4 linked regions of the Homo sapiens genome follow. The protein of the gene in region 4 purifies or fractionates together with the protein of the main gene of each other region. This does not show direct contact. Each region holds a gene or a part of one and is shown on either strand. Other genes may lie near its edges.

The links. Proteins that work in one complex are often made in the same cells at the same time.
Region 1: the proteins of ZNF292 (region 4) and ZSWIM9 purify together in Homo sapiens (affinity purification with mass spectrometry, with the first as the bait; one large-scale study listed by BioGRID). This does not show direct contact.
Region 2: the proteins of ZNF292 (region 4) and ADNP2 purify together in Homo sapiens (affinity purification with mass spectrometry, with the first as the bait; one large-scale study listed by BioGRID). This does not show direct contact.
Region 3: the proteins of ZNF292 (region 4) and SCAI purify together in Homo sapiens (affinity purification with mass spectrometry, with the first as the bait; one large-scale study listed by BioGRID). This does not show direct contact.

Annotation. Positions count from the first base shown.
Region 1 is NC_000019.10:48,183,162-48,188,206, forward strand, and holds part of ZSWIM9 (uncharacterized protein ZSWIM9), read left to right. Parts: intron 1-5,045.
Region 2 is NC_000018.10:80,111,244-80,116,288, forward strand, and holds part of ADNP2 (activity-dependent neuroprotector homeobox protein 2), read left to right. Parts: intron 1-5,045. UniProt on the Homo sapiens protein: May be involved in transcriptional regulation. May play a role in neuronal function; perhaps involved in protection of brain tissues from oxidative stress. May be involved in erythroid differentiation.
Region 3 is NC_000009.12:125,136,502-125,141,546, reverse strand, and holds part of SCAI (protein SCAI), read left to right. Parts: intron 1-5,045. UniProt on the Homo sapiens protein: Tumor suppressor which functions to suppress MRTFA-induced SRF transcriptional activity. May function in the RHOA-DIAPH1 signal transduction pathway and regulate cell migration through transcriptional regulation of ITGB1.
Region 4 is NC_000006.12:87,255,816-87,260,860, forward strand, and holds part of ZNF292 (zinc finger protein 292), read left to right. Parts: coding exon 1-5,045. UniProt on the Homo sapiens protein: May be involved in transcriptional regulation.

The DNA.
Region 1 (5,045 bases), on a different chromosome or scaffold from region 4:
TCTATCACCCAGGCTGGAGTGCAGTGGTGCGATCTGGGTTCACTGCAACCTCCGCCTCCCGGGTTCAAGCGATTCTCCTGTCTCAGCCTTCCGAGTACCTGGGACTACAGGGCGTGCCACCACGCCGGCTAATTTTTTTGTATTTTTAGTAGAGACGGGGTTTCACCATGTTAGCCAGGATGGTCTCGATCTCCTGACCTTGTGATCCGCCCGCCTCGGCCTCCCAAAGTGCTAGGATTACAGGCGAGAGCCACCACGCCCGGCCTGAATTTATTCTAATTAATTGAAATTTAAATAGCCACCTATGGCTATTGGCTGCCTTGCAGAGGTAACTGCCAGAACGCCCCTGCAGTTCTGGCGGGAAAAACCAACAACTGACAAACATGTCCAAATATGATGTAACATCACTAGGGGCTGGCTGGGTGCTAGCAAGAAGGGGAGCCACAGTGATGACAAATGCTATGTAAGTTTTTTTTTTTTAATCTTTTTTTTTTTTGAGACAGGATCTCACTGTCACCCAGGCTGAGTGCAGTGGTGCAGTCATGGCTCACTGCACCCTCGATGTCCCAGGCTCAAGCAATCCTCCCACCTCATTCTCCCGAGCAGCTGGGACAACAGGCGTGCACCACCACACCCAGCTAATTTTTTAGTTTTTGTAGAGATGTTTGGCGGGGGGGGGTCTCCCTATGTTGCCCAGGCTAGTCTTGAACTCCCAGACTGAAGCAGTCCTGCTTCGGCCTCCCAAAGTGCTGGGATTACAGGCATGAGCCACCACGCCAGGCCTACTTAAATTTTTTTTTTTTTAATTGAACTGCACAAACAGAAAATGCACAAATGATAAATACTTAGTTTGATGAATGTTCTCAAGGGGAGAACACACCTGAACCCACCATGCAGATGGAGAATTAGGAGAAGGAAGAGTGCTATGTCCTGTAATGTGATGGAGCGATAAGTTATCATCAAGGAGAAAAAGGCCGGGGCCTGGAGCGGGACAGTTCTAAGGGTGCTGTTTGAATTGGTCAGGGAAGGTCTCTTTAGCAAATGATGGTGAAGCAGAGGAGATGGAACAGAGGCAAGGGACCCTCATTCTGTCATCAGAGGGAAGAGAATTCTAGGCAGAAGGAACAGCCAGTGCAAAGGCCCAGAGGCACGAGCAAGCTTGTGTTGGAGGAACAGTGAGGATGGCTGCTGCTCCATAAGGAATCTCTGCGGCTTTAATCCAACTTCAAGTTTGGGGTGAACTTGAAGTTTAAAGAGGAAAGAAAGATGAGAAAGTAGGGGAAGAACTGGTTTCTCCTCCTGGCTGTGCCTTTGTCTCCCTTGTGTGTGGAAGAGGTCCCAAGGCAGGGTAAAGTCGAGATTCAGCTCTGGCACACTCTTCCTGTCTTCATCTCATGCCCAGTAAGAAGCCCTGATTCAAGCCACCAGCCCAAGCCCAGGCCTCTGTCCCGACATAATAATAATTTTAGCTAATGTTTATCAAGCACTTACTATATGCCAGGCACTACCCTAAGTGCTTTACATACTATAACTCATTTTCATCTCACCTGAGCCCTATGAGGAAATAGTCCACCATTCTCATCCCCATTTTACAGACAAGGAAACTGAAGCACAGAGAAGTCAAGTAACTGGCTCAAAGTCACACAGCTATTTAGTGACAGAGCTGGGCTTCGGACCCACACAGCCTGGATCCAGACCCATGACCTTCACCATGGGGACAAACACACATGCACTTCCTACTCCACTGGTCTTTGCTGATCTAGTAACTCTCCTCCACTACCCACCATGACATAAATAAGCCTCAGCTGTTCTTCCCTGAACCCACCCTCTGCAGGATTGTCCCTGTGCAGAACAGCTCATTCATAGATCAGAGCCTTCCCTGGAAGGGGAGTTGTCTTTTCATTTTGAAGGCTGTCTTGGAATCTCGGCTAAACCACGGTTGGCTCCTGCGTCTGTGTTTTGACCTGCTTTCATACTTTTTTTTTTTTTTTTTTTGAGACGGAGTTTCGCTCTTGTCACCCAGGCTGGAGTGCAATGGCGGAATCTTGGCTCACCGCAACCTCCGCCTCCCGGGTTCAAACGATTCTCCTGCCTCAGCCTCCTGAGTAGCTGGGATTACAGGCATGCGCCACCATGCTAATTTTTGTGTTTTTAGAAGAGACGGGGTTTCTCCATGTTGGTCAGGCTGGTCTTGAACTCCTGACCTCAGGTGATCCCCCCGCCTTGGCCTCCCAAAGTGCTGGGATTACAGGCATGAGCCACCGTGCCCAGCCCCTTAATGCTCTTGAAAGAAAGGAGGAAGAAGTTCTAGGACAGGAGAGACAGATTAGTGAAGCAACATTTAAATATTTACTTTTTGAATATGTCATACATTCACATGGTTCTAAAAAAGGTATGTGGTGAAAAGTCTTATCACATCCTGTCCCCCAGGTCCCCTCCCCTGCAGAGTTATTAGCAGCTTATAAATCATATCTCGCTTTCTATCCTATGGACCAGCACTGCCCGGTGGAACTTTCTACAATGATAGAAATGTTCCTTATCCAGGCTAGGCATGGTTACTCACACCTGTAATCCCAGCACTTTGGGACTCTGAGGCAGATGGATCACCTGATGGCAGGAGTTCGAGACCAGCATGGCCAACATGGCAAAACCTGATCTCTACTAAAAATTCAAAATTAGCCAGGCATGGTGGCAGGTGCCTGTAATCTCAGCTACTCGGGAGGCTGAGGCACAAGAATCGCTTGAACCCAGGAGGCAGAGGTTGCAGTGAGCTGAGATTATGCCACTGTACTCTGGCCTAGGTAACAGAGTGACACTCTTGTCTAAAAAAATAAAAAGAAAGAAAATGGTTCTTATCTGTACTGTCCAATCCAGAGGCCACTGGCCACACATGGCTACAGAATGCTTAATGAGGCCAGTATGACTGAGGAACTGAATTTGTCATTTAATTTATCGAAATGTAAACAACCTAATGTAGCTAGTGGCTTCTGGATTGGACAGCGCAGCTCTGCACATATACAGGTCAATTTGCATGTCTGTATGTTTAACTTTAATTTTTAACTTTATTTCCTCTTTCTGCCCCGCCACCCCCCACCCCCAGCAAGCAGGGCAGCCTAGTGTACACGCTGTTTTTGTTTGTTTGTTTGTTTGTTCTTTGAGACAGGGTTTCACTCCTGTCACCCAGGCTGGAGTGCAGTGGCACGCTGTTGGCTCACTATAACCTCCACCTCCTGGGCTCAAGTGATTCTCCTGCCTCAGCCTCCTGAGTAACTGGGACTATAGGCATGCACCACCATGCCTGGCTAATTTTTGTATTTTTAGTAGAGACGAGGTTTCACCATGTTGGCCAAGCTGGTCTCAAACTCCTGACCTCAAGTGATCCACTCACCTTGGCCTCCTGAAGTGCTGGGATTACAGGTCGGGGCCACCACACCCGGCCTGTACATGCTGTTTTGCATCTTGCTTTATACGTTGGGGAGTGCCAGATGTCACCATCTTTCGTTCTTCCTCTGGGGCTGGTCAAATCCCCCTGAGAAAACTCCTCTGGCCTCCTGGCGGGGGGTGAAGGCCAGGCTGCCAGGGCCAGGCTGCCAGCTTCTGGGAGCTGCAGGGGCAGAGGCAGGGAGCTGTCAGGCATTCAGCCAGCAAGACGCACTCAGTACCCACTTGGGGTTCAGAATCCCCCTCCCTCATCTTCAGATGGGCCAGATGTCCCCAAAGCCAGCGGCCCCTTTCTGTTTCACCCTGTCTACAGAATAAACCCCCAGTCACTGGGGGTGGGGGAAGAGTAAGGGGAGAGGGGAAACGAGATTTGGAGGTCTAGCTGCTGCTGAAACAGCCCTCAGTTCGTCTTTATTTTGCCTTCTGCAAAACTGGCCTGGTGTTGCCAGCTCCTTTTGAGGACTTTGCTACCGGTTCTCAGCATCCCTCAATTGCTGGCTTAGGATTCATGGGTTTTTAGGGGTGGGGTGGGATTAGCATGTCCAGCTGCTTTCCAGTTTCCAAAGTTCTGTCCCTATCATATTGCCTCTGATTTAAAAAAAAAAAAAAGCCATTTTAAAAAAAAGATGTAATTGAGGTTCAAGAGAGAGTGAAACTAGAGAGGTGTTCAATCCATCACTTTTACACAGAAATTTCACCTTTTTTTCACTTATAAAATCTAATGAAAGAGTTCTATATTATTATGTTAATAATACAGTAGTAATATAACAGTATAATGTAATAATTAATATATTATATTAATTATATATTATAATTATATATTATATTATATTATATATATTATATATTATATATTAATTATATATATTATATATATTATATATTATATTATAATATATTATATTATATTATATATATTATATATTATATTATTATTATATTATATTATATATATTATATATAATATTATATATATTATATATTATATAATATAATATTATATATTATATTAATATTATAATATGTAACGCATAACATGTAATATTGATAATATAATAGGTGCGATGGCTCACACCTGTAATCTCAGCACTTTGGGAGGCCGAAGCGAGAGGATCACTTGAGCCCAGGAGTTCAAGACCAGCCTGGCCAACATAACGAGCACCTGTCTCTACAAAAAATTAAAAAAAAAAAAATTAGGCATGGTGGCATGCATCTGTAGTCCCAGCTACTCAAGAGGCTGAGGCACGAGGGTTGCTTGAGCCCAGGAGCTTCAGGCTGCAGTAAGCTATGATCACACCACTGTACTCCAGCCTTGACAACAGAGTGAGACCCTTTAAATAGATAGATAGATAGATAGATAGATAGATAGATAGATAGATAGATAGACAGACAGACAGCAAGCTTTAAATTTTCATCCCAAGCCTAGGTCAAGCAACAATCAGTCTTTCCACTTCCCAGCAGTCTTCCAAAGGAAGGATTATTTGTAAAAAGTGCCTGCACTTCCTGAGTTGGGTTGCTCTCTTGATCTTTGGAGGGGATCAGACAAGAAGGATGCGCCCAAAGCCACAAGGCATGATTTAAGGGCAAGACTGGGGGGCGACTTC
Region 2 (5,045 bases), on a different chromosome or scaffold from region 4:
ATTTCATTTAGTTTTTTGGAGTTAATTAATAGCAAACTCAGTGCTTATGTGCTGTTTTGCATGTATTAACTCATTTATCCTCATAACTACTCTGTGAATTAGGTCATACTCGCCCTGTTTTACAGAAGAGCCAGCTGAGGCCTGGAGAGAGTAAGTGATTTCCTGAAGATTACACAGCTCATAAATGGTGGAGCTGATGTAAACCCGGGCACACAACTCCAGAATCCTTTTTGGTGACCATCGTTTTGTGCGATTTCACAGGAACTAAAAAAAAGTTCTGTGGCTTAAAAAGTATTGTTTATTACTGTATTACCTGAATGACATTTTTTTTTTTTTTTTTTGAGACGGAGTTTTGCCCTGTCGCCCAGGCTGGAGTGCAGTGGTGTGATCTCGGCTCACTGCAACCTCTGTCTCCCGGGTTCAAGCGATTCTCCTGCCTCAGCGTCCCGAGTAGGACCCAGCCAATTTTTTGGTAATTTTTAGTAGAGACAGGGTTTCACCATATTGGTCAGGCTGGTCTCCAACTCCTGACCTCAGGTGATCTGCCCGCCTTAGCCTTCCAAAGTGCTGGGATTACAGGTGTGAGCCGTTGCACCCGGCCAACATTTTCTTTTAGAATGTATTTTTTTTTCTATAATAGAATATCCTTACGAGATCATTATACTAAAAAATCCCCAGAGAAGTCCTTTATGTACCCTTTTGGGAAATAATATTTTCTTGTGCATATCAGTGGAATTTTATGGTAGTTCCATGCCTACCCTAAACATTAGGAATTGAGATTTATTTTGAATTGAAATTGATAGGTTGGTGCATGATGTGGAAATAGTTGGCCGCCCCGGTTAGCCTGCTGTTTTCTAATGGTGAAAATACAGATTTTACTGAGCTCTAAGATTCTATGGAGAACAGTATCTATAGAGGATCTATAAATATGAAAACATTGAACTATTTCATAGTTAATTCATCCACTGGGCATTTTACATGGAATATTTTATCTTAGGATTGATAAATTATGCTATAAGAATGGATCTAAGAATGAATAAATTGTGGTAGCTTAGAATGGATAAATTATGGGTAAAAGTCAGCTTCCCATCCCCAAAGTGGTTGGCAACAGTTATGAAACCTGTAATTTACTTGCATTTTATTTTTTATCCTTTGTTGGTTTCCCTAAAGCAGTTAGGAAACTGCTAAACAAAAAAAAAAAGGAGGGGGGAACTTTTCCCCCTCCTTTTTTTAAATGAAAAGGTATTTGTGTGCTTGTGTTTTGTTTTGTTTAGAAGGGCCACAATAACGATGAAGGAATGGAAGCACTTTCATTTGAGAATAAAAAGTTCCTATTTTTCAAATTCAAGGGAAAAAAATAAAAAAGTGACAACTCCTTGGCCCTAGTCCCAAGCCTTGAACAAGTAACCACAGACCCCTGCCCAATCTCTGAGAGCCTCATTTTAGTAACCCCTTTCTGAGGTTCATGTATGTACAACCATGCTTACATGAATCAGCCAATCCCCAATCACTCTGCTTTTAAAAGTCCACCAGTCTTTGTATCCCAGGCTTCTCAAAACTCTGTGATAAGATCAGCTCTGGCTGTGTGAGTTGAGATTTTCTTGGAAGCAGTAAATTTAGCTTCCCTGTTTCAGATACATATGGATGATGGTCCCTACTTTAGACAACACTGTTTGTCAGCCAGCTTTTGGAGAAGAACCCCAGAGGATAGAGAGGATAGTGGAACTTTAAGGAGGAAATGAAATCAAGTCTGATAGAGTCCCTGGAAAGCAGCTAACAAAATTTTCGTTGAGTTTTGCTCTGACCAAAGAAGCTGGACTGGGCCAGAAAGTGACCTTGAGCTTAGTGTTTAGAAATGCATAATGAGGTTATGGCAGCTCTTGTGTGAGAGTGTAAGCTTTTGAAGGCTAGAACCCAAATCAGTGCATTTTATTAAAGAAAATTTTTAAACTTAAAATTTTATAAAGAAAATTTTTAAATTTTTATCCTCCCAGTTCTACAATGCTAATGATCCTTAAATCTCTCCTTTTGCTGAGACCAGGATACATTTTTCACATAGATAACTTTGAAAAGAAATTTATCCGCTTCAAAACAGCTTCTCAAAAACTTGGTGTTTGCTTGTTACCCACCAAAAATTTCTCCCTATTATATGTTAACCCTTTCTGCCTCCCACTCCTCTCCCAGTTTGATTCCAGTCCACCTTTTTGGTTTTACTTTTGCCAAATAAATTCAGACTTTTCCTTCTTTACCTCAATAATTTTTTGATGCTAATTTATTCACCTTGTATGTCTTGGGCACCAGCTTTCCATAGCCATGTCCTCTTTAGAACCTCCTAGCACTTTCTGCATATCTTACGGTTCTTATCCTGTTTTATTTTATATCTTTTGTTCATTTAATGAACATTTGCTACGTACTGTGCTCTGTGATGGGACCCTCTCAAGCAAATATAACATGATTTCTGCCCTGGAGTAGTTCAGCCCAATAGGAGAAATGGATATATAAGTAGATAATTGCAACATGGTGAGTCGAGTGCAGTGGAGTGGTATGTGGTTATGGTACTAAGTCCTAGGAGGGATCACTAAGCCTGTCCTTGGGTGGTGGATACAAGAGAGGAATGTAGAAGTAGAATTGCTTACTCAGAAATTGTCCTTAAAAATCATGAGAGAGCTGGGCATGGTGGTTCATGCCTGTAATCCCCGTACTTTGAGAGGCTGACGGGGAGGATTGCTTGAGCTCAGGAGTTCAAGACCAGCCTGGGTAACATAGGGAGACCCTGTCTCTACCAAAAAATAAAAAAAAGTTAGCCAGGTGTGGTGGCATACATCGGTAGTCCAAGCTACTCATGAGGTTGAGGCAGGAGGATTGCTTGAGGTTGGGAGGTTGAGGCTGCAGTGAGCTGTAATCAAGCCACTATACTCCAGCCTGGGTGAAGGAGCAAGACCCTGTCTCAAAAAAAAAAAAAGAAAAAAAAGATCTTGAGAGGTATTGCCAAATTACCCTGTAAAAGCATAAAAATTAAAATTTTTCTACTTTTACTACCACCAGATGTTAGTAATCTTAATAGTTACTGTTTTGATAATAAAAATTTGACATTTTAAATGGCATTTCTTTATTATTAAAGTTGAATAACCAAATATTTGCCACTTGAGTTTGACTGATATATATTTTAGCTTTTATAGCCTACACATTTAAATTTTGGAATAGTTGGCAGATTTTTAGGAAAGTTACAAGTATAGTACAAATAACTTTTTTCCCTGAATCACTTGAGAATAAGTTGCCAAAAAAGTTGCCACATTACCCTAAATACTACAAACAAGAACATTCTCCTACATATCCATAACAAAACCATCAAAATCAGGAAATCACTACATTCGAGCGGGTTATAGTCTATATAACTATATAGATTATCACTGTATACCAAACCACCCCAAACTTACTGGAGTAAGACATTTTATTTAAGAAGCGCATCAGTTCTCTGGGTCAGTTCTATTCAGACAGGGAAGGGAGATGGTTTGTTTCTGGTCCACAGTGTCTGGGCCTCATCTGGGAAGACTCAAAGGCAGGGGGTGACTTGACAGCTAGGGCTGGAATCCTCAAGAGGCATCTTCACTCCCATGCTGGTAGTTGATGTGGAACACCTCTACCTGGTGTCTCTGTGGGCTAGTTGGCACTTTCTACACATGTGGTATCTAGATTCTGGGCATGATCATCCTGAGAGAGGTATGTGGCATTTTTATGATCTAGTCTTGGAATTCTCATGGCATTATTTCCTCCATACTTGATTGGTCAAGGCAGCCACAAAGTTCTGCCCAAAGGTCAGGAGGGGGCATTAGATGCTGCCACTTTTGGGAGGAGTGTTAGGGCCGTATTGTAAGAGCATGTGGGTTGGAAGGTATTGTGTGTTTGGAAAATTCACTTTGCCACAGGTTGTATCTGTTACTTGATATATGCCCACATTGTCTCGTATCTGGCCTATGGGAGCCCTTTCAAGCTGGTTACTTCTGTGTTCTGTTGACATGCCTCATTGAGCAACTGCTTTATATTCCGGCACAGGATGTTCTAGGCTCATCTTGTCTTTACCATGCTCCAGCCATTTTTCCTAGGGTTCTTTTTAAAGGAAAGCGGTATTTAGGAATTCAGGTTTGAGCCCTAGTTGTGCCCACTGCTACTGGGGTGTATAACTGCATCCAGGCACTCTCAGTGGGCAGAGCTATGGAATGTATGTGTGTATGTGGACACACACTCTCAAACTATCTCTATTCTTCTATCTGTGTGTTGAAAACAATGAGTTCACTTCAGTAACCCCTAGTCTGGTCAAGTACTACAGGGTTTATTTTAATTTTGTGCCTTTTTAGATATTGTTTTAAACAGCTTGAGATATAATTTATGTACCATACAATTCACCAGTTTGAAGTGTACAGTGAATGGCTGTGGGCTCATTCACATTGCGTATACATCACCACAGTTGAGTTCAGAACGAAGAAGCCCTGCTTCCATCACTTCCCAGTTCTCCCAGCCCTGGCAGCCACTGTTGTGCTTTTTTTTTCTGGGGACGGAGTTTTGCTCTTACTGGTCAGGGTGGAGTGCAGTGGCGCGACCTCGGCTCACTGCAACCTCTGTCTCCCAGGGTCAAGCAATTCTCTTGCCTCAGCCTCCCGAGTAGCCGAGATTACAGGTGCCCAGCTAATTTTTTGTATTTTTAGTAGAGATGGGGCTTCACCATATTGGCCAGGCTGGTCTTGAACTCCTGACCTCAGGTGATCCACCCACCTTGGCCTCCCAAAGTGCTGGGATTACAGGTGTGAGCCACTGCACTCGGCCCACTGTTGTGCTTTCTATGGATTTGCCTGTTCTGGACACTTCACATAAATAGAATCATACAATATGTGGTCCTTGTGTCTGGCTTCTTTTACTTAGCATATTTCCAAAGTTTGTCCATATTGTAGCATGTATGTATTTCATTTCTTTTATGGCCAAATAATCTATTGTATGGATATGTCATATTTTATTTATCCAGTCATCAGTTTATTTATCAAATGCCCCAA
Region 3 (5,045 bases), on a different chromosome or scaffold from region 4:
TTAGTCCTTGAGTAATGGAGATGAAGATATATTTATCACATAAACATTTTTGACTGCATTCCATGTGAGAGGTACTACATAGCAATTCTGTGTAGTCATTAGATGATTCCTTTTTCACAGATGTTGGCATTGACCTAGAGAAAGTAAGCTACTGTAGTTATGTGACCAGTAGGACTACTTTCATAGTTAATATCTGGCAAGTTAATGATGTTAATACACAGAAAACCTCAATAGTAAATAGACACGAAATGCTGATGGTGGAAGTGCCAACAGAGTTTCCTTGTCACACTTTAGGCCTGTACTGTCCAATCCAGTAACCATATGCAGGGTGAGCACTCAAAATGCATCTAGCATGACTGAGGAACTAAATTTTTAATTTTATTTAATTGTAATTAAATTAACTTGAGAAACTGCTACTTGATCAGCTATTGGAAAACGTTCAAGTATGTTTTGAACAACTTGGGTATGTGAGTCTGTATTTTTCATCCGTCATTTTATGAAATCTAAGTATATATCAAATATTTCCAATGAGAATTTAGGGTCTGAAATGAGATAAGTATAAAATACATGCTAGATTTCAAGTTAGTACAAAAATTGAATAAATAAAATTTCTCAGTAACTTTTTATATTGATGACATAGTGAGACAATATTTTAGGTATATTGGAGTAAATACTTTTTTTTTTTTTTGAGACAGGGTCTGGCTCTGTCATCCAGGCTGTAGTGCAGTGGTGCAATCTCAGCATACTGCAACCTCCACCTCCTGGGCTCAAGCCACCCAGCCAATTCAGCCTCTGGAGTAGCTGGGACTACAAGCGCCTGACACCTCACCCAGCTCTTTTTTTTTTTTTTTTTTTTGTAGAGACAAGGTTTGGCCATGTTGCCCAGGCTGGTCTCAAACTCCTGGGCTCAAATGATCCAACCACCTTGGCCTACTAAAGTGCTGTGATTACAAGTGTGAGCTGCCATGCCTGGCTGTAAATAAAATTGTTACTAAAATTATTTTCACTTACTTTTTCCTGAGACAAAGTCTTACTTTGTTGCCCGTACTGGAGTGCAGTGATGTGATCTTGACTCACTGCAATCTCCGCCTCCTGGGTTCAAGCAATTCTCTTTCCTCAGCCTCCCGATTAGCTGGGATTACAGGCGCCTGCCACCATGCCCGGCTAATTTTTGTATTTTTAGTAGAGACGGGGTTTCAACATGTTGGCCAGGCTGGTCTTGAACTCCTGGCCTCAAGTGCTCTGTCTGACTAGGCCTCCCAAAGTGCTGGGATTACAGGTGTGAGCCACCGGGCCTGGCCTTCACTTACTTCTTTTTCCTTTTTATTTTTCTTCTGAGACAGGGCTTGGCTCTGTTGTCAAGGCTGAAGTGAAGTGGTGCAATCACAGCTCACTGCAGCCTCGACCTGGTAATCCTTCCACCTCAGCCTCCCAAGTACCTGGGACTACAGATGTGCACCACCATGCCAGGCTAACTTTTTATTTTTTGTAAGAGACAGGGTCTCACTGTGTTGCTCAGGCTGGTCTCCTGTGCTCAAGTGATGCGCCAGCCTTGGCCTCCCAAAGTGCTAGGATTACAGGCGTGAGCCACCATACCCAGCCTTTCTTTTTATTTTTTCTAATATGGCTACTAGAAAATTAAAAGCTGCATACATTTAACTTGCATTGTATTTCTTTGCATTGTATTTCTTTTGGATAGCTCTCATTTAACTCTCATTACCCCACTGCCAGACTCTTCAGTAGCCTTCTGACTGGTTTCCCTACCTTGAATCTGTAATTCCCTCCCTGTACTGTGCAAATCGATCTTGTAATTCTCATGCTTAGGATCCCTCTGTGCTTCCTCATTGCTTATTGAACATCATTCAGACTTTTAGCCTAATCATATAAAAAAATTGCCTTTATTTTACTTCTTCATACTTTCCCAGCCACGGTTAATACTTTGGCCATATCGATTTTCAATGATGGAACTATTAAATGTCTACTTTTAAATGATTTAACTTTCTGGTGAACCTTCAAGATGAATTAATTGCTGAATGTAACTCCGTGCTCCATTTGCCATTCCCAGAACTTATGTTCCCTCTTTGCTTTGGTTTTTTGTTTTTAGGGTTTTTGTTGTTTTTGTTGTTGTTGTTGTTGTTTTTTAAAGACGGTCTCACTTCAGGGTGGAGTGCAATGGTGTGACAATGGCTCACTGGAGCCTTGACTTCTCGGGCCCAGGTGATTTTCCCACCTCAGCCTCCCAAGTAGCTGGGACTACAGATGTGCATCACTATGCCCAGCTAATTTTTGCATTTTTTGTAGAGGTGGGGTTTTACCATGTTGCTCAGGCTGGTCGTGAACTCCTGGGCTTAAGCTATCTGCCTTCCTCAGACTCTCAAAGTGTTTGAATTATAGGCGTCAGCCACAGTACCTGGTCTGCTTTGGGTTTTTGTATGTGATTTCTTTTTCTTTCTGGAGTACTTTCTCCTTGCTCCTTGACAAGCCCCCTCCTTTAAGACTTTGCTCAGTGAGGGCTTCCCCCCACCCTCCCTCTGCTCCACCTTATTGGGTCCCATCATGGCCTGTACATACACTTACATGAAATGGTCTGGGCTGAATTTGAATTCAGCTCTGTCAAATGTAGTTTGCGAGATCATGTGCAAGTTAATAAGCCTGTCTCTGCCTCAGTTTCCTCATCTATATAGTAGAAATAATAGTTCTGCTGGCGTGGTGGCTCACGCCCGTAATCCCAGCACTTTGGGAGGTCAAGGTGGGCAGATCACCTGAGGTCGGGAGTTTGAGACCAGCCTGACCAACATGGAGAAACCCCATTTCTATTAAAAATACAAAATTGGGCCGGGCACGATGGCTCAATCCTGTAATCCCAGCACTTTGGGAGGCCAAGGCGGGCGGATCACAAGGTCAGGAGATCGAGACCATCCTGGCTAACACAGTGAAACCACGTCTCTACTAAAAACAAAAAAAATCAGCTGGACGTGGTGGCAGGTGCCTGTAGTCCCAGCTACTCAGGAGGCTGAGGCAGGAGAATGACGTGAACCCGGGAGGCAAAGCTTGCAGTGAGCTGAGCTCATACCACTGCACTCCAGCCTGGGCGACAGCGAGACTCCGCCTCAAAAAAAAAAAATTGGCTGGGCGTGGTAGCGCATGTCTGTAATCCCAGCTACTCGGGAGGCTGAGGCAGGAGAATCGCTTGGACCCAGGAAGTGGAGGTTGCAGTGAGCCGAGATTGCACCATTGCACTCCATCCTGGGCAACAAGAGCGAAACTCTGTCTCCAAAAAAAAAAAAAAAAAAAAAAGAAATAATAGTTCGACTTCCCCAAGGTTGTAAGGTGCCTAGGATAGTGCCTGGCACATAGAAGGTACACAATAAATTTTAGGTTAAAAAACACCCATCAAATATCTTTTATTTCCCACTTCTTTTCAAAATGAGAAGATTAAAAATAAAGGCCAAGAAGAAATGAAAGAAGCAGATAAAGCCAGTGGCAGAATTAGTGCATGGACCGGAAAGTCCTGCATCATTGCTAATGGTTGCTTTGGTGTTTGGCTCTGAGTTTTCTGGAGTAAAATGAAGAAGAAAATAAAGTTCAGTTTTCAGATTCATGGTATCTCTAAAATCAAACGTGAGTTTTTAAAGATTGCTTCTTGGCCAAGCGTGGTGGCTCACATCTGTAATCCCAGCACTTTGGGAGGCTGAGGCGGGTGGATCACCTGAGGTCAGGAGTTTGAGACCAGCCTGGCCAACATGACGAAACCCCATCTCTACTAAAAATACAAAAAATTAGCCGGGCATGGTGGCGCGTGCCTGTAATCACAGGTACTCAGGAGGCTGAGGCCAGAGAATCTCTTGAACCTGGGAGGTGGAGGTTGCGGTGAGCTGAGATTGCACCACTGCACTCCAGCCTGGGCAACAGAGTGAGACTCCGTCTTAAATAAATAAATAAAGATTGCTTCTTATACTTCTCAATCCAAGTGAGTTATTGCCAGTGAACAGTCTCCACGGGGCCAAAGCAATGTGGTTTTGGTATATGGCTCTCTGATGGTTTGGCTTGATTCAGAGGTAAAGAGGGATGCGTACACTGTGGGGACTATACGTGTTTTGTTCACTGTTTATCCCCAGCAGCTAGAATAGCATCTGGCACGTAGAGAACAGTTTATTGAATTTTTGAGTGAACAAATCCTTTAGTAATTCTCCAGGAATTTAAGTAAGCATCAGGTTGCAATGAGTTTATTTTCTCAGTCCAGAATCATGAGGCTACATATTCAGCATGCCTGATTTAGGTTAGATCCTGATCATGTCAGCATTTTGACCTGAATGGACAACCAGCACATGTATTTAAAGGTCCTATGGGCAGGACCAAGATTTTCCTCAGAAAACAGTGCAGGGGTTGCTCTAAAACTAGAAAACAAAATGTACAGTTAAGACCCCAAAGATGAATTATAGAATAAGGATGTAATGGTTGTAGCCAGATATTTAAAAAAATAGGTGTTAGGCCGGGCGCGGTGGCTCACACCTGTCATCCCAGCACTTTGGGAGGCCGAGGCGGGTGGATCACAAGGTCAGGAGTTCAAGACCAGCCTGACCAAGATGGTGAAACCCCATCTCTAAAAAATACAAAAATTAGTCAGGCACAATGGCGCATGCCTGTAATCCCAGTTACTTGCGAGGCTGAGGCAGGAGAATCACTTGAACCTGGGAGAAGGTTGCAGTGAGCCGAGATCGCTGCACTCTAGCCTGGGTGACAGAGCAAGACTTCGTCTCAAAAAAAAAAAAAAAAAGTGGTATTAGTTGCCGGGCATGCTGGCTCACACCTGTAATCCCAGCACTTTGGGAGGCCCAGGCTGGCAGATCACGAGGTCAGGAGTTTGAGACCAGTCTGGCCAATGTAGCGAAACCCCGTCTCTACTAAAAGTACAAAAATTAGCCGGGCGTGGTGGCAGGCAGCTGTAATCCTAGCTACTCAGGAGGCTGGGGCGGGAGAATCGCTTCAACCTGGGAGGCAGAGGTTGCAGTGAGCTGAGACCACGCCATTGCACTCCAGCCTGG
Region 4 (5,045 bases):
GCATTTTGTGAGTGTTACTCATCTCAATGATCACTTACAGATGCACTGTGGCAGTAAACCATATATCTGTATACAGATGAAATGTAAAGCTGGTTTTAATAGTTACGCCGAGCTTTTAACCCACCGAAAGGAGCATCAAGTCTTTAGAGCAAAATGTATGTTTCCTAAATGTGGAAGAATTTTTTCGGAAGCTTATTTACTATATGATCATGAAGCACAACATTATAATACGTACACTTGTAAGTTCACAGGTTGTGGTAAAGTTTATCGTTCTCAGGGTGAGCTGGAAAAGCATCTGGATGATCACAGTACTCCTCCTGAAAAAGTGCTGCCTCCTGAAGCCCAACTTAATTCATCTGGAGATTCCATTCAGCCTTCTGAAGTGAATCAGAACACAGCAGAGAATATTGAGAAAGAAAGATCTATGCTTCCTTCAGAAAATAACATTGAAAACAGCTTACTAGCAGATAGAAGTGATGCTTGGGATAAAAGCAAAGCAGAATCAGCTGTGACCAAACAAGACCAGATTTCTGCCTCTGAGCTCAGGCAAGCTAATGGACCATTGTCAAATGGTTTGGAAAACCCTGCTACTACTCCTCTACTTCAATCCAGTGAAGTAGCTGTGTCCATTAAGGTGTCTCTCAATCAGGGGATTGAGGATAACTTTGGAAAGCAAGAAAACTCAACTGTGGAAGGCAGTGGTGAAGCACTGGTCACAGACTTACATACGCCAGTTGAAGATACTTGTAATGATTTGTGTCATCCAGGTTTCCAGGAGAGAAAAGAACAAGATTGCTTTAATGATGCCCATGTTACTCAGAATTCTTTAGTAAATTCAGAAACTCTCAAAATAGGTGACCTTACCCCACAAAACTTAGAAAGACAAGTGAACAACTTGATGACCTTTTCTGTGCAAAATCAGGCAGCATTTCAAAACAATTTACCAACTTCCAAATTTGAATGTGGAGATAATGTTAAAACATCATCCAATCTTTATAATTTACCTCTTAAGACATTAGAAAGTATTGCATTTGTTCCACCGCAGTCCGACCTAAGTAATTCATTAGGAACTCCATCAGTGCCTCCAAAAGCTCCAGTTCAGAAATTCAGCTGCCAGGTCGAGGGATGTACTCGAACCTATAATTCTTCACAGAGTATTGGGAAACACATGAAGACAGCACACCCTGACCAATATGCTGCATTTAAAATGCAGCGCAAAAGTAAAAAAGGTCAGAAAGCTAACAACTTAAATACACCAAATAATGGAAAGTTTGTTTATTTTTTGCCATCACCGGTGAACAGCTCAAATCCATTTTTTACATCACAGACCAAAGCCAATGGGAATCCTGCTTGTTCGGCCCAGTTGCAGCATGTCTCGCCACCCATTTTTCCAGCTCATTTAGCAAGTGTGTCAACTCCATTGTTGTCCTCAATGGAAAGTGTCATAAATCCAAATATAACTTCTCAGGATAAAAATGAACAAGGTGGTATGTTATGTTCCCAAATGGAAAATTTACCTAGTACTGCCTTGCCAGCACAAATGGAAGATCTAACCAAAACAGTTCTGCCTTTGAATATTGACAGTGGCTCAGATCCTTTCCTTCCTTTACCTGCAGAAAGTAGTTCAATGTCTCTCTTCCCTTCACCAGCAGATAGTGGGACTAATTCTGTTTTTTCCCAACTGGAAAATAATACAAATCATTATTCCTCACAGATTGAAGGAAACACTAATTCCTCCTTTCTAAAGGGGGGTAATGGTGAAAATGCAGTTTTTCCTTCACAAGTGAATGTTGCAAATAACTTCAGTAGCACCAATGCCCAACAGTCTGCACCTGAAAAAGTTAAAAAAGACCGTGGGCGGGGCCCAAATGGGAAGGAAAGAAAACCTAAGCACAACAAAAGGGCTAAATGGCCTGCAATTATCAGAGATGGGAAATTTATCTGTAGCAGGTGTTACAGGGCTTTTACTAATCCCAGATCACTGGGTGGGCACTTATCCAAGCGATCTTACTGTAAACCACTGGATGGAGCCGAAATTGCTCAAGAACTTCTACAGAGTAATGGACAGCCTTCTCTTCTTGCCAGCATGATTCTCTCCACAAATGCAGTAAATTTGCAGCAGCCACAACAATCTACCTTCAATCCAGAAGCATGTTTTAAAGATCCATCATTTCTACAGCTTCTTGCTGAAAATCGCTCGCCAGCATTTTTACCAAATACATTTCCTCGATCTGGTGTGACTAACTTTAATACCAGTGTCAGTCAAGAAGGTAGTGAAATTATTAAACAGGCTTTGGAAACTGCTGGCATTCCCAGTACATTTGAGGGTGCCGAAATGCTTTCTCATGTTTCAACAGGTTGTGTCTCTGATGCATCACAAGTAAATGCAACGGTGATGCCAAATCCAACTGTACCACCCCTGTTGCACACTGTATGCCATCCAAACACCTTGCTGACCAACCAGAATAGGACGTCAAACTCCAAAACTTCCTCCATTGAGGAATGTAGCAGCTTGCCTGTTTTTCCAACGAATGACTTACTACTGAAGACTGTTGAAAATGGTTTGTGCTCTAGTTCATTTCCTAATTCTGGTGGGCCATCACAAAATTTTACCAGTAACAGTTCTCGTGTTTCTGTTATAAGTGGTCCTCAGAACACAAGATCCAGTCATTTAAATAAAAAGGGAAACAGTGCTTCTAAGAGAAGAAAGAAAGTTGCTCCTCCACTAATTGCACCTAACGCTTCCCAAAACTTGGTAACAAGTGACTTAACAACAATGGGACTCATAGCAAAGAGTGTTGAAATCCCAACTACTAACCTTCATTCAAATGTAATTCCAACTTGTGAACCTCAGAGTTTGGTGGAAAATCTAACACAGAAATTAAATAATGTTAACAATCAGTTATTTATGACTGATGTAAAAGAGAATTTCAAAACCAGTCTTGAGTCCCATACAGTGTTAGCCCCTTTAACATTAAAAACTGAAAATGGTGATTCCCAAATGATGGCTTTGAATTCATGCACAACTTCAATAAATTCTGATTTGCAGATTTCTGAAGACAATGTTATACAAAACTTTGAAAAGACTCTTGAAATTATTAAAACTGCTATGAATTCTCAAATACTTGAGGTAAAAAGTGGATCTCAGGGTGCTGGTGAAACTTCACAAAATGCTCAAATAAATTATAACATTCAGCTTCCTTCAGTAAACACTGTGCAAAATAACAAATTACCCGATTCTTCTCCGTTTTCCTCCTTTATAAGTGTCATGCCAACAAAAAGTAACATTCCTCAGTCTGAAGTATCACATAAGGAGGATCAAATACAGGAAATTTTAGAAGGCTTACAGAAATTAAAATTAGAAAATGACCTATCCACTCCAGCATCCCAATGTGTACTGATAAATACATCAGTGACACTGACTCCCACGCCTGTTAAATCAACTGCAGATATCACAGTTATTCAGCCAGTTTCTGAAATGATAAACATTCAATTTAATGACAAAGTTAATAAACCCTTTGTGTGTCAAAACCAAGGCTGTAACTACAGTGCTATGACAAAGGATGCACTATTTAAGCACTATGGTAAAATTCATCAATACACTCCAGAAATGATTCTTGAAATTAAGAAGAATCAATTGAAATTTGCTCCCTTTAAATGTGTAGTACCTACATGTACAAAAACATTTACAAGAAATTCTAACCTCCGGGCACACTGTCAGTTGGTGCATCATTTTACAACTGAAGAAATGGTAAAGTTAAAAATTAAAAGGCCTTATGGAAGAAAATCTCAGAGTGAAAATGTGCCGGCCTCACGAAGTACACAAGTGAAAAAACAGCTAGCTATGACAGAGGAAAATAAAAAGGAATCTCAGCCTGCTTTAGAATTGAGAGCAGAGACCCAAAATACCCACAGTAATGTAGCAGTGATCCCAGAAAAACAACTTGTAGAAAAAAAAAGTCCTGACAAAACAGAAAGTTCTTTACAAGTGATTACAGTTACTTCAGAACAATGTAATACAAATGCACTCACAAACACACAAACCAAAGGACGGAAGATTAGGAGGCATAAAAAAGAAAAGGAGGAGAAAAAACGAAAGAAGCCAGTTTCCCAATCCCTTGAGTTTCCAACAAGATACAGTCCTTACAGACCTTATCGATGTGTTCACCAGGGATGCTTTGCTGCCTTTACGATACAGCAAAACTTGATTCTCCATTACCAGGCTGTACACAAATCAGATCTACCTGCATTTTCAGCAGAGGTCGAAGAGGAAAGTGAAGCTGGTAAAGAAAGTGAAGAAACTGAAACTAAACAAACTTTGAAAGAATTTCGATGTCAGGTAAGTGACTGTTCTCGAATTTTCCAAGCAATTACTGGCCTAATACAACACTACATGAAACTTCATGAAATGACTCCTGAAGAAATTGAAAGTATGACTGCTTCAGTGGATGTTGGGAAGTTTCCATGTGACCAGTTAGAGTGTAAATCTTCATTTACTACATATTTGAACTATGTTGTTCATCTAGAGGCAGACCACGGGATTGGACTAAGGGCAAGTAAAACAGAAGAAGATGGTGTATACAAATGTGATTGTGAAGGCTGTGACCGTATATATGCAACCCGGTCGAATCTCCTCCGACACATTTTTAATAAGCATAATGACAAACATAAGGCTCATTTGATTCGTCCAAGAAGATTAACACCAGGCCAGGAAAATATGTCAAGCAAGGCAAACCAAGAAAAATCAAAGTCTAAACATCGGGGGACCAAGCACAGCAGATGTGGAAAGGAAGGAATAAAAATGCCCAAGACCAAACGAAAGAAAAAAAATAATTTAGAAAACAAGAATGCAAAGATTGTGCAGATTGAAGAAAATAAGCCTTATTCTCTGAAACGTGGGAAGCATGTATATTCTATAAAGGCTAGAAATGATGCCCTGTCTGAGTGTACAAGCAGATTTGTAACCCAGTATCCATGTATGATAAAGGGATGTACTTCAGTTGTTACAAGTGAAAGCAATATAATTAGACATTATAAGTGCCATA